5 separate regions of the Homo sapiens genome follow, and all the other regions are reported to be linked to region 4. The links are microRNA targets in miRTarBase. Many come from high-throughput screens and were not tested one by one. Region 4 holds a microRNA gene; each other region holds the end of a gene's coding sequence.
Evidence for each region. The annotated mature microRNA hsa-miR-7515 reads AGAAGGGAAGAUGGUGAC and lies in region 4 at 1,145-1,162, shown strand. An mRNA with a match to its seed (bases 2 to 7 or 8) in the 3' UTR can be bound and repressed. Matches are read on the target gene's strand: a 7mer-m8 pairs with bases 2 to 8, a 7mer-A1 pairs with bases 2 to 7 and ends in A, and an 8mer does both.

Region 1 (3,256 bases), not on the chromosome of region 4:
TACAGATGGGTGGGAAGCTTCCAACAATGGCTCTGTTACAGTGTTGCTCTCTTTTTCTCTTTAAGACCCCACCAACAACTGAACGCTTTGGTCAGGCTGCTACAATGGAAGGAATTGGGGCAATTGGTGGAACTCCTCCTGCATTCAACCGTGCAGCTCCTGGAGCTGAATTTGCCCCAAACAAACGTCGCCGATACTAATAAGTTGCAGTGTCTAGTTTCTCAAAACCCTTAAAAGAAGGACCCTTTTTGGACTAGCCAGAATTCTACCCTGGAAAAGTGTTAGGGATTCCTTCCAATAGTTAGATCTACCCTGCCTGTACTACTCTAGGGAGTATGCTGGAGGCAGAGGGCAAGGGAGGGGTGGTATTAAACAAGTCAATTCTGTGTGGTATATTGTTTAATCAGTTCTGTGTGGTGCATTCCTGAAGTCTCTAATGTGACTGTTGAGGGCCTGGGGAAACCATGGCAAAGTGGATCCAGTTAGAGCCCATTAATCTTGATCATTCCGGTTTTTTTTTTTTTTGTCCATCTTGTTTCATTTGCTTGCCCCGCCCCCGAGACGGAGTCTTACTCTGTCGCCCAGGCTGGAGTGTAGTGGCATGATCTCGGCTCACTGCAATCTCTGCCTCCCGGGTTCAAGCTTGTCCAGGTTGATCTTGAACTCCTGACCTCGTGATCTACCCACCTCGGCCTCCCAAAATGCTGGGATTACAGGGGTGAGCCACCGTGCCCAACCTCACTTGCTTCTTATCCTTACACTCCCCCAGCCCCAGAGAAACTGCCACATACACCACAAAAACCAAACATCCCCCAATGACCTTAGCCCCATTGCTCCATTCACTCCCAGGTGAGAATTCAGGCAAACGTCCACAAAGGTCACAGGCAGCGTACATACGGTTCTGTTATACCCCATATATTACCCCTTCATGTCCTAAAGAAGACATTTTCTCTTAGAGATTTTCATTTTAGTGTATCTTTAAAAAAAAATCTTGTGTTAACTTGCCTCCATCTTTTTCTTGGGTGAGGACACCCAGGAATGACCCTTTTGTGTCTATGATGTTGCTGTTCACAGCTTTTCTTGATAGGCCTAGTACAATCTTGGGAACAGGGTTACTGTATACTGAAGGTCTGACAGTAGCTCTTAGACTCGCCTATCTTAGGTAGTCATGCTGTGCATTTTTTTTTTCATTGGTGTACTGTGTTTGATTTGTCTCATATATTTGGAGTTTTTCTGAAAAATGGAGCAGTAATGCAGCATCAACCTATTAAAATACATTTTAAGCCTTTTAATTTTCTGTGGTGTTTTTGAAGGGGAAAGGAGGGAGGGGAGTTATCTTAGGAGATGAGCAGTAGACTCTATAAAGGTAATCCTTTATGACCTTTGGATTACAGTATTGATCTAGACAAACATGGGGAGGAGGTGGGGATGAGGTGCATCAAATGGCTGGAGGGGTTGGCAAGGATTAGCGCTATTGATACTACATGGAAGTAATGATGGAGGAAAGCTGCCCCTCTGAAAGAGGAAGAAAATGGGCTTAATCCTCATCGAGCTGGGGGCGCGGGGGGGGTCTCAAAATTGGTATTTGTTTCTTAGCAGCTGCTGCTGTGTCCAAGGCTTGGAATTGCTGTGGTGAATCTAAAACTGTCTCAGTAGTGGTGAGCTGACCTCACCCAAGTTCAAAGCCCTACTCTGCCTGATCCTTTTTTCCTGAGCCTCAGAGCTAAAATGCCCCCGAGCTCTTTCCTATTGGCTGGAAAGACGAATTGAAGTTCCCTTGCCCATGTTAGGAGGTGTACGCCTCCTGAACTAAAGATAGAAACAGCTGGCCCTTCCAGGCAGCTAAAAGCCTCCAGACTAAGAGGTGTTCCCCATTCGGCAGCCAGACTCCTTGAAATACCCTTTCAGTAATCATTCAACCAACGCTTCCATGTCTCTACTCTGTCGTAACAAAGGCTGTGGGCAGCACTTTGACCCTAATACCAACCTTCCTGGTGAGTAAAGAATCCTGACCTGGCCAGGGGCTCTGTGTGGGTGTTGGGGACTGGTCAGCTGGGGGGCAGTGTGTTTGAGGAGCGGGGAAAGAAACTACCTGCCCTAGTTTAATTGGTCTGAGTGATCTTACAGCCTTTGCTGGCTTTTTTTTTTTTCTTCACATTATATGGGAAGAAACCATAAATAGAAACCCGGGGAAGAGGTGAAAAATGATACTTGGTATAGTTATCTTCCCTTCCTTGATAACTTCTACTGATGTCCACAGATTCCTGTTGCCATCACCCTGGGGTCCCAATCTTCCATGATGCACTTAAGGTGAGGAGTAGGTGAGGGGGGTTAGCAAGAGCATTTCCCAGAAGAGATAATACCCAGGAAGCTAAGCTGATCTGGGTCTCTTGTTATCAGGGTTGGTCCTGCTGCCGAAAGCGAACTGTAGATTTCTCTGAGTTCTTAAACATCAAGGTAAATTATTTATGTACTTGGATTCTGCCCCCAATAGAAGGATTCTATCCCTAATCCTATCTCCTTATCTATACTAGGGCTGTACTATGGGACCACACTGTGCTGAGAAGCTTCCTGAGGCCCCTCAACCTGAAGGCCCTGCTACAAGCAGTTCACTTCAGGAGCAAAAACCTCTGAATGTGATTCCAAAGTCAGCAGAGACCTTGCGCCGGGAGAGGCCCAAGTAAAGAGGAGGAGGCCCCTGGACTTTTCTTATTTTCATGTAGCTTCCTAGGAGTGATTAATGGGTCATTGAGGACTGGGAACTAGGGACCAGGGATGTGAGGAGGGCCAGATGTCAGGGTTTGGATGGTGTATATCCTGTGCCTTAGGGGAAATTTGTGTCTGGAAATAACGCCCTTTCCTCTAAGGTGGTGTGGGATGATGGGATAGATACCTGAATCAACAGAGTAGATAGCCCCTCACAAATACATCCTTAGTGTATAACACAAAAGGGATTGTTGAGAATGACTTCTCTTTCTAGAAAAGAACTTTAAGATAAATCTCATATCAAGAAAAGGATGTATTGTATTATTGGCAGCCAGGAGACTTCCCAAATTTTGTGGGAATAATAAGAGCAACAGAAGGAAGTCATATTAGGTCCACGATTAGATAAAGAGGAAGAGGATATGACTCAGTTCTGCAGAGAAAAGTGGTTAGGTTTAGAGCAACTGAGTAGATGGGTAAGAGAAGTGCTGGGGATTTCTCTAGGGTTCAGGTATTTGGGATGTCCACAGAGATGAAAATTGGCAATGGGGTT
Region 2 (3,267 bases), not on the chromosome of region 4:
TTCCTTCCAACCACTAGATTATAATGGCTAAAAAGTCTTTTCCTTAAATCTGATGGGTGTAAAAATAAAAAGTAACAGCATTTCTCTAGGGCTCTGTTTTTATTTTGTTTTGTTCTTCCTTTATAGACACGACAAAAACAAGGATTAACTTTCCAAATACTCATGGTGCACAAGAAGGTTATGTATGCACAGTATTTCTAATTTATTCAAATTCAATTTGAATTTGGTCTGAAGCTATCTTGTATGAAATGTTAGCTTTCCTGATATTTAATAATATTTATTATGTTTGCATATAAGCTCAAAAAATTAATGCAAAAGTATACTTTACTCATGGTTATCTTCAGGTAAATATTAGTGGTTATGTTTAAAAGCCTGATTTTATATAGATGAAGTTGAGAAAAAAAAAGAGTATGGAAAGGTAAATTAGGTCTTAGTCTTGATTCTGTTACCAGCTGTTTGACCTTGAGTAACTCTTCACCCTTCAATGGGCCCCAGTTTGCTCCTCTATGAATTTTAAGGGGTTGGACTAGTTGACAGACCAGGCCCCTTCCAAGTCTAACATTTCAAAATCCTAACATTCCAGGTTCTATCATCTTGATATATAAAAATAACAATCTTTCATAAAAGCACACATAACATAATCAAATATTAGAATGACTCTTGGAAAAAAACATATGATTTCCTATCTGGGTTATACTTTGCAGCAATTAGGCAATTCATTTGGCATTTGTTTGATTGTATAATTTAATGACAATATAAACAGCATAGTTTTGTTATTTTCCTTTAAAAAGACTAAAGCAAAAATGATTTAAAGCTAACAAAAACTACTGTGACATCAGTTTGACATTCAAAGTTTGTTTCTTAGCAAAATGGCCAAAGATATTTTGACTTGATACAGAGTATATAATATAAAGACTTTTAGACCTAAAAATCTTCAAACATTATTCGAATTTAGCAAAACATAAGCAAAATTTTAATATCAAAGTGCTAAACAGTACTGCCTTAAAAGTCACTGCAAATGAACCATAAAATAACGGCATGGGAAGTGACATTTATTGTACAAATGGTTAATAAAAAGACACATTATAAATATATATATGTAACCTGCTATATTTATATATATATATATATTTGCTTATTTAATTTCTAATTGGTGTATCCAAGTCACTGTGAACACCCCATTTAATTACTCTGTAACTCAGCTTCCAGGAGCTGGTGGTCTTGCAATAAATACAGGCAAAGCTATTACAATATAACGTGCATACAAATGTTTATACAAATAAGGACACTATGCAACAAATTATCTCATAGTAATATGGCATTAACAGTAGAAACATACAAAAGGGAGTACGAACACGGAATGTTGAAACGCAGCCCACTAATCCTTCCTAGTACTCACACTCATACTATTTTTTAAATCTTTTCTAGTATTCACATTCATACTATTTTTTAAAAAGATTTGCTTGCTCTCCAAAATTGTCTCCTTAACCAATAACAAAAATTAAATTATATCTATAAAAATCCTTATTGTCCCTGGTGCTTACCCTGTATGACCAGTTCCTGCTGATTTGCATGTTCTTATCTAGGGATCAAATACTCAACTGACTTATGGCGCTTCTGAATGAATATACCAGTCAGTTACTATAACTGAAGCAAGTTTAGGGAACTCTGGTGGGGTTGATAGAACACAACCAAAACAGTTACATGTAATCCAGTTTATAATCTGATCCACTTTCAGGATAGCTGGACAGTCAGGGCAGGGATCTGGTTCCATCAAGAATGGCCTAAAAGTCTTGGATGGGCCATACCTCAGAAGGGATCGACAGGGAAGGTGAACACAGCCTCTGCTAGGGATATTAACGTGTCATTTGCTAACATGACTGCCTCCTTTTTATTTCCATATAGAATAAAGGAGAGTTAATAAACAAGACTTAGTAAGACAGCACTTTAAAAAATTGCACTTGTTTATGGAAGCAAACAGCCATTATTGTTTTGCCATGTCTGATTTGTAGGTAATCCTCCATCTTTCACCATTTGTTAAAATAAAGGAAGAAGGAAATTAAAAGGAAGTTTCTGCCTTGTTTGCACCACATACGTACCTTTGATACAGGAAGCATATTTTCAAGGGACCAATCTTTAAGACACATCCTACCCTGGCGAACAACCCTTGGCTGTTCTTGTTTTTAAATACAAAGCAACTATAATTGGATTCCCCAGAAAGAGTTTTAAAACAGTTATATTATCCTTTTTTTTCCTGCTGGGATAGCATTGTCCAAAAGTGCTTTGTTAGCAATTTCTTAGAAAACCCTCATGAACTATAACCCCCTCCCACCCCATCCCCCAATGCCTAAATATAAAACACAACCCCAACACAATACTCTGCAAGTTTTCTGGCTTTAGGTTGTAAGGAAAAGAGCCAGAAAAAAAAGAAAGTCTTTGCTTTCTACAGGAGCTGCTTTTCCTCTTAAGGAAGGACAGGAAATGATAGGTTTCCAAACCTATCCCTTTGCTGCGTAGCAAGCAGGTGCTAGGAGAGGAGGCAGCTCACTGCTCCACTGCTCCTGATTAGAAAGGTAGGGTGTCCAGGAAGAGCTTGTCAATGATGGAAGGTGGAGACACCAAGTCTTCCAGCTTCAGGTAGAAGATGCGCTGGAGGCCCAGGGTGCAGATCTTCCTCAGTTCTACCAGGGCACCCAGGACCTTGGACTCGGTGGGCTCCAGAGCCTGTCCCTTACTCTGGTGGTCTTTTAAACTGCTTGTGATCTTGTTGCATAGCTCTTCGACTCTCTTTGGTTCTTTTAACCCATGTCTTTCTGCAGAGGGATAGAGAAGGGCAAGAAGTTTAGGAGGCAAATACATCTTAAGACACTTTGAATCCCTAATTGAGGTCTGTGTCTCATTCTGCCAGTTTGGATAGCTTCTTTGCAATCAAAGTGCCCTCCCTGTTAGAGATAGCTCATGGCCTTTGGTATGAAGCAACACCAAGGTTTGAATCCCAGTCCCAACACTTACTTGCTGTGTGCCCTAGAGTAAGTCTCTTTACTTCTGAGCACCCATTTCCTTATGAGATGAAGAAAATGATCATACCCAATTCAGGGTTTCTGGGATGGCCAGCTTAGGTAAGTAACACAAGGGAAGCACAGTTCCTGGCACACAGCCACATGGAATGAATGGCAGGGTGGTTATTATTTTGCATACATTATCCTACTAAGCTCTCACAAAGCCTTGTCAGTAGGCAACTATTTTTCAGAGTGACATAGAAACACA
Region 3 (3,267 bases), not on the chromosome of region 4:
GCCAGCCGGCCGGCCCCGGGGCCTGGGCACCGCCGCTCGACTCCCCAGGCACGCCGTCGCCCGACGGGCCCTGGTGCTTCAGCCCCGAGGGCGCACAGGGGGCGGGCGGGGTGCTGTTTGCGCCCTTCGGCCGGGCGGGCGCCCCGGGACCAGGCGGCGGCAGCGACCTGCGGCGGCGGGAGGCAGCGAGGGCTGAGCCCCGGGACGCGCGGACCGGCTGGCCCGAGGAGCCGGCCCCGGAGACGCAGTTCAAGCGCCGCAGCTGCCAGATGGAGTTCGAGGAGGGCATGGTGGAGGGGCGCGCGCGCGGCGAGGAGCTGGCCGCCCTGGGCAAGCAGGCGAGCTTCTCGGGCAGCGTGGAGGTCATCGAGGTGTCCTGACCCCTCCGCTGCCCTCGGCCCCGCCGCCCGCAGCCAGGCCCGTTATAAATGTATATTATATATAATGCAAAGAAAGGTAAATGGTTTTACTGGGATTTTTATCGAGAAGTAAATATTTCGATTTTTTATTTATTTAAGCTGTTCATTCTGGCAATGATTTGGCAACAGTGCGGGTGGTCCTCGAGCTCTATTTTTACTGTCTGGTATTTAAACTGAAACATACGTTTCTAAGCAATACGAGGCCACCTTCAGTCGCAAGCTGGGTGCCAGGCCTGGGGCCCCTCCCAGTTCCCCCGCCCCAGGAAACACTGCTGACCTTTGCAAAGGCTGCCGAGCTTTCGTGCACTTTTTACATAACAAAAAGGTGAAAAAAAGGAAAAAAAAACTTCTTTGCCACAAACTGAGCCGCAGAACCCCCCTTCTCCCCCCACCCACCTCCCCTGCTCCCTCCCTTCTCTGCGCCGGCCTAGGGCTCTGCACCAAAGCCATAGGATGGAGGAGCAGGAGCTGGTGTGCCCCGGAGAGGTGCGGCCAGCCCTCCATCAGCTCCAGGCACCAAATCTTGGTGGCAAGGAGGGCACCCCGCTGCCCGTTGCCCCAGAGCTGTTCTCTGGCAGGGGAGGACAGGCATTGGGCTTCATGGTGCCAGGGTGTTCAGAGGGGCTGAGAAATAGAACAGTGTGTGTAGGGGCTTCGGGCAGGGGGTTCTGGAACGTCAGATGAGGTGCAGCCCAGGGGAGGACAGAGGTGTTAGTGCCCCCAACTCCTGCCAGAGCCCCAGTCCAGCCACAGAGTGGCTCAGAAAGGCCATTCCTAGAGGGCTGCGGCCCTCCCTTCTCCCTTGCCCATGCCCCCAGAGCTGCCTGCCGGGCAGGGTGGCACCATTGCAGGAGAGGAGCTTGGCCTCCGGGGGTCAGGCAGGAGGCGCCTGGCTAGCCAGTGCTGGCTCCACTGGGCAGGAAGCCCTGGACCCCCAGGTATGAGGAGGGGGTGGTCTTAGGGTTCTGTTCCAGGTCTGCCCCGCCCCCCTCCCAGCCATGCCCCAGGCAGAACTTGGAATTCAGGTGTGCACCTGCAGGCTGAGGGGCTCTGTGAGCAGGTGCTGCTCACACAGGGAGTTCAGGCGCCAGCCAAGCCCCTGTGCTGCTGGGATAGGCCTGCTTCACTTAGGGAGCACTGCCTCAAGACAGGTAAAGCCCCCTCGTTTGCCCCCACCCCCATGGGGCCGCTCAGGAGAGAAACTCCCATTCACCCCTTTCCCAGGGTGCTCTCTCTCTAGGTGGCATGCCAGCCCCCAAACACAAGTGGCTTTTGGGCCCAGGTGGGTCAGCCTGCTGCCCCTGCCCCATACCCCCTCGGGCCATTGGGACCCCTGCCCTTCAGATGTCCTAGGGTCTAGGAGTGGGGCCAGTCACTGTGGGAAGAGGCCAGGGGCTTGGCCGGAGAGGCAGCCCAGGGCAGGACCCAGTCCTGAGTCCTGGAGCAGGGCCAGGGAGGCGCCCATCCCGCCCCAGCCAGCCGCCCTCTCTGCTGTTTCTTCTATTTGTTCTTCTTTTCACCCACAGCTCTGTGTTCCTGTCATCCCTCCTTTCAGCAAAAGTCCTGTTCCCGTTCCCTCTGTCCCCACCCACTCCTGTTCCCCCAAGAAAATAAGCTATCGTTGTATTTGCAATCTATGGATTAGAGGTTTAAGTATTTATTATTATTGGTTAATTATTATTAATTATGTAAATTTGCCTCCCATATGTCTGTTGCGTTGGGTTTCTGAGGAGACCCTGGGTGAGGAGGATGCACTGGCTTCCCGCTTCTCGCCCCCCACCCCTGTGCTGTCCGGGAGACAGTGGTCTGGGGCCACTGGTTGGGCCCCCTTCTCCCTTCCCCCTTCCCCTTGTCCCTTCTGCAGGCCGTTGAGGGGGGCTGTCTGTCTCAGTCTGTCTCTGCTCCCACTCTTGAGGCACTGGTTACCGCAAAGTGAGCAGCCAGCAGGGGGGCGAAGGTCCTGTGTTGGCCACTGCCTCCTCCAGTGCTGCAGGAGGCGGGCTGAGGCCCCACCTGGTGGCTTTCACCTGACCCAGCCCTGAGTCCTCTCCAAGCCTCTCTCCGGCCCCTCCCACCTGGCCACTGCCTCCTCCAGTGCTGCGGGAGGCGGGCCAGGGCCCCACCTGGTGGCTTTCACCTGACCCAGCCCTGAGTCCTCTCCAAGCCTCTCTCCGGCCCCTCCCACCTGGCCACTGCCTGGCATTGGGATCGCCCCAAAATGGACCCGGCCCCTCCTGTTATTTGCTGGGAAGTCCAGCGGAGGAGAGGGTGCAGGTCCCCCGCTGAGCCTCCAGTCTCTGTAGACTGGGCTGCCGGCCCTTCAGCCCCCCTTGGAGCCCCTCCCGCCACAGCCGCACCTTCTGCTCCCGGCCCCTCCCTTTGTATTTGGAGACAATGTGTTGTAATAAAGCTTAAAGTGGATGTTTTCCCCACGACTCCGCGCCTCTTCCTTCAGACTGGTGGTGGGCAGGGTGGGGGCAGAGGCTGCTGGGAGGCAGGCCTGAGGCCAGAGCCTGGTGTGTTGGGTCTGGAAACTTGCCCCAGGCTCACACCGCGGGTGAGCTCTGAGAATAGTCCCTGGGGGCCAGGCATGGGCACAGGTCCTCAGCTGCACCTTTAGGGTGTAAAACACACTTTTTCAGTTGTTACAGGCTAGTAAAAGCTTAAATAACTTAAAACGATATAAAACCTCAGTGTTACCCACCAGTCCCCTCACTCCCACAATCCCAATGTGAACAGTTGGATGCTTCCCTCCCAGCCCCTCCATGTGTGCTGTGTGCTGTGTGCATGTGTGTGGGTGCATATACGTACCAGCAGAAATAGGGGTCTAGCTATATATAGTGTCTCC
Region 4 (3,267 bases):
CATTTACAAAATTCAGGCTTTCTGTAGGGTGAAGAGCTGAGCTTCAGTTCTTCTCTGGGGCAGAATATTAGCAAGGACAGTGAGCTTAGTTTTGACTGATTCTGGCATCTTCACAAAGCAAAAACCAAAGTATTGACGTAAGAAAACTGGATTGGGAGTTGGGAAAGGTTATGACTTAATGATAAAGGAATTAAAGAGACACATTGGCATTATTTTTTTCTCCTGACACCTGCACAATGCCAAAAGATAAATCAGAACAGAAAACATTAAAATTGGAAAGGAACTTAGAGACCACCTAGTCAAGGGATGACAGATTCCACAGCCAGTACCATCTCTAAGGTATTGGCATTGATAATCGCTTCTCTCTGGAACTTTGTGTTGAGTAGGATTCTGAGGCTCAAGTTAAACTCACCAGGATTGACTCTTCTGATCAGAGAGCAATGCCTAGTCTTAGAGAACAGAAGAGGCAGGGTCCGCATCTGGTATTAGCATTCTTTATTTAGTTCAACAAAGTCACATGGAGACAATATGTTACATCCTGACTTTAAACATTAGTTCAGAGAAGAAAAGTTGCTGAGATCCCTGCTGCAGTTATCCACGACTACATAACAAACCACTACCAAACTTTGCGTCCTAACAACAGTGATTTATTATTTTGCACAGCCTTGTGGATAATGAGCTTAGGGTGCAGGTTGGGGAGACTGGTGGTTCTCACATGATAACTCAGAGCTCCCAAGAAAGCAAATGTGGAAGCATCTAGACCTCTTAAGGCCCTGTCTAGAATTGTCTGGGCAGCATTTTCATCACATTCCACTGGTAAAGGTGTTCTTACCTTGTATGTGCCTGCAGGGATGAGAGAATTTTGGCCATCTTTGCAGATAATCCACCACAGTCCCTCCATGCTGCCTTCATGCAGCAGGTAGGTGAGTACTCCACAGGCTTTGCCACCCAGAACAGGGAAGCCAAACTGTCAATCTCAAGTCCCTAATCTGTGACCTGCTTATAATTCTTACTCCACAGTTATCATGGTGAAGACCAACGAGATGATGAACATGTAGCACATATCTGTATCACGAGAATTCCACGAGAAGAGCTCAAACTTTTATCATTTCATTTATGCCTGTTAGCATGAAAAAAGAGGCTGAGAAGGGAAGATGGTGACAAGGAATTGCTAAGCAGCAGGTCACATGGGTCACCCAGCGTGGACCGGCCTGAACACAGCTTCCATGTCCCCACTCTTGCCAATGTTCTCATGTGGACACAGCTGGCTTTGTTACATCAGAATGAAGGCCTCCCTTATGATGGCTCAGTGTTTCCATAGAAATGTCCAAGGAACATGATTATAGAGTCAGTCCATTCATTAACACAGAGGGTTAGGGGTTGGGAAAATCATCTAATCCAACAGCCTTATTTTGAAAATGAAGTTTCCAAGCCCTAGACGTTCATGGAAGCTCATGAAAGGCTCCTAATCACAGTGCCCTTTCCGCGGTAACATGGGCTCCTTATTTAGTTCCATTCAGAAAACCTGAAGAGAGGCCTCCCTGGCCAACGGTAGTGGGGATTAGAAGCAGTCCGTTTCTGTTAATATTTATATTCTATTTTAATAAAGCCTGGCTTCTTACAATCAAGTGCAACCTAATTTGTCCAGAGCCGACACTCCCGAGTGTACAGAATCCCCATTTGATTTTGCTGTTTGGAACGTTATCCACTCAATGGTTTCTCTAAACAACAGTGAAAGTCCCCATCCACCATGAACCTGCAGAGCATAACTGGATATTTTCTGGCCAGTTGGCTCATTGCCTACAGCAGAAATCTTCAAGCAGAAGCTACTGAAACAAGGACACTAATTTGCTAAGCCAGGAAGTTTTTCAAAGTCCATGATCCAGAAACACCAAAAATAGAAAAACCAACACAAAAATAAACAAATAGAAAAGTGGCCCATGCCTGTAATCCCAGCACTTTGTGAAGCCAAGGTGGGTAGATCACCTGAGGTCAGGAGTTTGAGGCTAGCTTGGTCAACATGGTGAAACCCTGTCTCTACTAAAAATATTTAAAAAATTAGCCAGGCGTGGTGGCGGGTGCCTGTAATCCCAGATACTCAGGAGACTGAGGCAGGAGAATTTCTCAAACCCGGGAGGCAGAGGTTGCAATGAGCCCAGATGGTGCCACTGCACGCCAGCCTGGGCATCAAGAGCGAGACTCCATCTCAAAAAAAAAAAAAAAAAAAAAAAAAGCCAGAGATTTTCTTAGATAAGTATGTGGAAGGATCCCAACATCTAAATGTTTCTACATCATGAGATGAAAGGAAATTAATGATGATCTCTTTTTTTTTCTTTTTTTTTTTTTTTCCAGATGAAGTCTTGCTCTTGTTCCCCAGGCTGGAGTGCAATGCTGCCATCTCGGCTCACCACAACCTCCGCCTCCTGGGTTCAAGCAATTCTCCTACCTCAGCCTCCCGAGTAGCTGGGATTACAGGTGTCCGCCACCACGCCCAGCTAATTTTTGTATTTTTAGTAGAGACAGGGTTTCATCTTGTTGGCCAGGCTGGTCTCGAACTCCTGACCTCAGGTGATCTGCCCGCCTCGGCCTCCCAAAGTGCTAGGATTACAGGTGTGAGCCACCGTGCCCAGCTGATGATCTCTTTATAGTAATTTCTGACATACGTATATCTTCAGGGTTGACATACAGATTATGCTTTTCATTCACACAACTTTCAGGTTAAGTCTGACTGGTGTTACTACCCACACACCATAGAGGAGGAAAGGTAGGCTCAAAAAAACTGACTTGCCCAAAACAAGTTAGATGGTGGGACACAAGATAGAAAGTGGGGAAGTCAAGACTGAAGCACCCACCTCCTGGCTCCATCACAGCCATGTGTGCTGATATCTGGGCAGCTAAACGTAGAGTGCTGGAGCCCACATGGGGTGTATGGCTGGGGAATTTTAGCTTTACTCTCATTTCTAGCATCTATGTTGGAAAAGCATTTTGTGTTTTATGCTTTTATTGTATATTCAGCCAGTCAAGAGTCATAGTCTATTTCATTCAGGCTTATGCCACTCACTAATGTCAGTAGAAGCCTATTCGTTTCTTAGAAATTGTAGTGGAAGATGTAGAAAGTACACTTGTCAAATTTGGGCATGATTCATCTGTGAGAGGAACCTTGTGCATGCAAACTCAGTAACAGCGTTCACAAAAATCTGGACAGGCTTGAAAGACAGGCTGAAAATAACATTGCAGCAGGAGGAAATGTAATGGTATGAACCTGAA
Region 5 (3,267 bases), not on the chromosome of region 4:
CAGAGTTCTGAGCTTATCCGGCATCAGAGAATTCATACAGGGGACAAACCCTATGAATGTAATGAATGTGGGAAAACTTTTGGCCAGAACTCAGAGATTATTAGACATATTAGAATTCATACTGGTGAGAAGCCCTATGTATGTAAGGAATGTGGGAAGGCCTTCAGGGGGAACTCAGAACTTCTTAGACATGAGAGAATTCACACTGGAGAGAAACCCTATGAATGCTTTGAGTGTGGAAAGGCTTTCAGGCGGACCTCTCACCTTATTGTCCACCAGAGAATTCATACTGGAGAGAAACCCCATCAATGTAATGAGTGTGCAAGAACCTTTTGGGATAATTCTGAGCTGCTTCTCCACCAGAAAATTCATATTGGAGAGAAACCTTATGAATGTAGCGAGTGTGAGAAAACATTTAGCCAGCATTCCCAACTTATCATACATCAGAGAATTCACACTGGAGAGAAGCCTTATGAGTGCCAAGAATGTCAGAAGACTTTTAGTCGGAGCTCTCACCTCCTCCGACATCAAAGTGTTCACTGTATGGAGTAATCTGCAAAATAGGAAAGCTTTTAGTGGAAAAGCTAAAGTCCAACTTATTCATTTGTTCATAATATGCAAATATGCACCCCAAGTATTCAAATCCAATGAATGGACAGAACCTCCTCTGTCCTCCCACTGATTTTAAATAGTTGGTTGAAGAAGATGAGGCACTTTTTTTTTTTTTTTTTTAAGCATTGGGGTCTTGCTCTGTTGCCCAGGATGGGATGCAGTGGCACAGTCGTAACTCACTGCTTCCTTGAACTCCTGGGCTCAAACAGTCCTCCTGCCTCAGCCTTCCAAATAGCTAGGACTGCAGGCACTAATGAGGCACTTTTATGAATTATTCATTGAGAGGTTTCAGTGTGCTAAGTTAAATCATAAAAGCTCTTTCAGGCCTTAATTTCCCCTCTGTCCTTCCTTCCCCTTCTCCTCCCCCAGTGGATCACATAACAAACATTAAGGGTCTGTACCAGCCATCTTTCCTAAATTACTCTTCAGCAAAATTGTGGGAACAGGATTCCACCACCTCCTAAGAATGAGAGTTGACTCATTGACTGTTACCCCCTGAAATATTAGAAAGTCATAATTTAGAAGACACACCTCATTCTCCTGTCCACTGTTTAGCATTGGAATAATTTAGTAAGCTGTTATTAGCTTCAAAGTCGTCCAGCCCTGCTATGAAGTTACTTTAGAAGATGGCAGCATTAATGAAGAAGCAGGCTCATTTCACATCTGTCAGGCTTCCTTATTCATCTGAAGAGGCTGCCATGATGGAGGAACTGACAGGCAATTTACAACGGGATTATAAGTGAAGGCCTTAGAATCCAGAGGGGCCGATTAGGCAACACCAGGGGATAAACAATTGAGGTCACACTGCTCGGCATGGGCAGAAGCAGCTCTTCAGGAGCTGTCCACACTTCAGGGGTGCTCAGACTGACTGCTCCTAAGAATTCTGCTGCATATATTTTTAGCCCCATCTCCTGCCACTGCTGACAGATATTGTGACAGTAAGTAGCAGACAGGACTGTGGCTTCACCTCCTCCGGGCACCTGGCTACAGTGATGAGTCAGTTCACCTGATGACAAACCAGGGTCTGGCCTTGCCAAAGCACTTAAGTTCTCATGACCTGGACCGCACTGGAGGCCCTGGCTAAGTCAGGATGTCGTAGCCTCTTCTTGGTTTTGCCCCTTGGCCTTGAAATTCTTTTTTCTTGAATAACTTTAAAAAAATAGAGATAAAGTCTTGCTATGTTGCCCAGGCTGGTCTTGAATGCCTGGGCTCCAGCAATCTTTTTGCCTCAACTTCCCAAAGTATTGAGATTACAGGTGTGAGCTACCATGCCCGGCCTTGAAATTCTTTCTTCGCTATGTCTGCATGTTTTTTGTGTTCTGTATTTATTTCTTCTCCAAGGAAACAGCCTACATTTTCCATGTGTCCATGTTTCTGAGGCCGTGGGTGACAGTGGGAATTGCACTAATGGGGGCCCAACAGGCCTGGGGGCTGGTCTTAGCGCTAGACCTTGAACAAGGCACTTCACCTGCTGGTCTCCAATTTTCTCCTCTGTAAAATGAAAGAGTTGAACTAAGTGATCTCAAAAGTTTCAACCAGCCCGATAATTCCTTAATTCTTTAAAAATTTAACTTTATATATCTTTATTATTCTTTAACCTCATCTTTGTTACACTAATATTAGTCACTAATATTTATTGAGTGTTTACTACCTGACAGGCAGAGTGCCAGTTTACATTTTAATTTTCACATCATTTCTATGATGTGGGTACTCATTTTTTTAAAGCTTTATGAAGGTATAATTTACGTACTATAAAATTCACCTGTTTTAAGTGTTCAGTTGAATGATTTTTAATTTACATAGTGGTGCAACCATCAATGATGTGGGTATTCTTACCCCAATTTAAAAGATAAGAAGGGGCAGTGTTAAGTAATTGACCCATGATTCCACAGCTAGTAAGAGCGACAGCCAAGACTCCAAACCTGGTTGATGCTCTTAACCACTGTGCTATGCCGCAGGTAGGCAGATTCATTACTGCCTTATCTGAAACCCTTTGCACAGTTTCTATTACTGATTTCTATGTAGATTTGAATATAACAAATTTAAATCATGTCCTTGGTAACAGAACTGATCACAGCCAAAAAAAATTCACCAAATGGGTTTATTCTGTACTCCAATATAGGTGTCTTCCCAGGTTTATATCCTTGGCTTGAGAAAAGGGTTGTACAAATAGATGATTGCAGAGTTTCCACATCCTTCCAGATACCTCTGCCTCTAGCAGTCACACTCTTAGTAAGGGAAGTTGTTTGATTTACTTCTTCCCTTAGGTTGATTACAAGTGAAGTGCGCCGTCTTATTCCTTTTTCATTGCTGGAGCACAAATTGAATTGTGCCCAGACCGTATCTTTCTCACATGAAACCTGGATCTCACCTATCCCTTCCATGCCTGATTCCCGTGTTTGCATATTTTATTTCCACATTTACCTCTTGTCAGCCCTGACAGAGAATTTGGCACCCCTTCAAGCTTCTCCTAAACAATCTATGCACACAAACACCCCTGAGCAATATGGACTTCACTGAAGATAGTGTGTAAGCAAAGGAGAAGAGTTCACATTGTGCATCCTATTAGACATTTTGTTCTCAGAAGTACCTTACTGGCCAAACCAATGAAGGTTTTCCTCTTGTCCTCCCCTCTCAAGGCTCAGTCACCTCAAC

Region 1: the mRNA of NONO is a reported target of hsa-miR-7515. Seed matches in the 3' UTR shown: 7mer-A1 at 923-929.
Region 2: the mRNA of NR4A3 is a reported target of hsa-miR-7515. Seed matches in the 3' UTR shown: 7mer-m8 at 1,813-1,819.
Region 3: the mRNA of DUSP8 is a reported target of hsa-miR-7515. Seed matches in the 3' UTR shown: 7mer-m8 at 829-835, 7mer-m8 at 1,211-1,217, 7mer-A1 at 1,756-1,762, 7mer-m8 at 2,252-2,258, 7mer-m8 at 2,272-2,278 and 7mer-A1 at 2,736-2,742.
Region 5: the mRNA of ZFP3 is a reported target of hsa-miR-7515. Seed matches in the 3' UTR shown: 7mer-m8 at 2,987-2,993 and 7mer-A1 at 3,068-3,074.

Annotation. Positions count from the first base shown.
Region 1 is chrX:71,299,877-71,303,132 of GRCh38, forward strand. NONO (non-POU domain containing octamer binding) reads left to right here. Exons shown (of 12, transcript NM_007363.5): 12 at 66-1,292. The coding sequence ends at 200. ITGB1BP2 (integrin subunit beta 1 binding protein 2) reads left to right here and starts at 1,874. Exons shown (of 11, transcript NM_012278.4): 1 at 1,874-1,994; 2 at 2,261-2,310; 3 at 2,401-2,457; 4 at 2,535-2,680. The coding sequence starts at 1,931.
Region 2 is chr9:99,863,166-99,866,432 of GRCh38, reverse strand. NR4A3 (nuclear receptor subfamily 4 group A member 3) reads right to left here. Exons shown (of 8, transcript NM_006981.4): 8 at 1-2,813. The coding sequence ends at 2,566. Among named protein-coding and RNA genes, the nearest start is that of STX17-DT, 42 kb to the left of the region's middle.
Region 3 is chr11:1,553,631-1,556,897 of GRCh38, reverse strand. It overlaps DUSP8 (dual specificity phosphatase 8), which reads left to right. Exons shown (of 7, transcript NM_004420.3): 7 at 1-2,847. The coding sequence ends at 380. LOC124902608 reads left to right here and starts at 1,418. Exons shown (of 2, transcript XM_047427956.1): 1 at 1,418-1,949; 2 at 2,218-2,291. The coding sequence starts at 1,418. The coding sequence ends at 2,291. RefSeq lists an enhancer at 734-1,531.
Region 4 is chr2:6,649,274-6,652,540 of GRCh38, forward strand. MIR7515 (microRNA 7515) reads left to right here and starts at 1,100; the gene lies at 1,100-1,166. It overlaps LINC03156 (long intergenic non-protein coding RNA 3156), which reads right to left and starts at 1,246. Exons shown (of 2, transcript NR_110497.1): 1 at 833-1,246; 2 at 1-108.
Region 5 is chr17:5,092,462-5,095,728 of GRCh38, forward strand. ZFP3 (ZFP3 zinc finger protein) reads left to right here. Exons shown (of 2, transcript NM_153018.3): 2 at 1-3,267. The coding sequence ends at 552. Among named protein-coding and RNA genes, the nearest start is that of ZFP3, 16 kb to the left of the region's middle.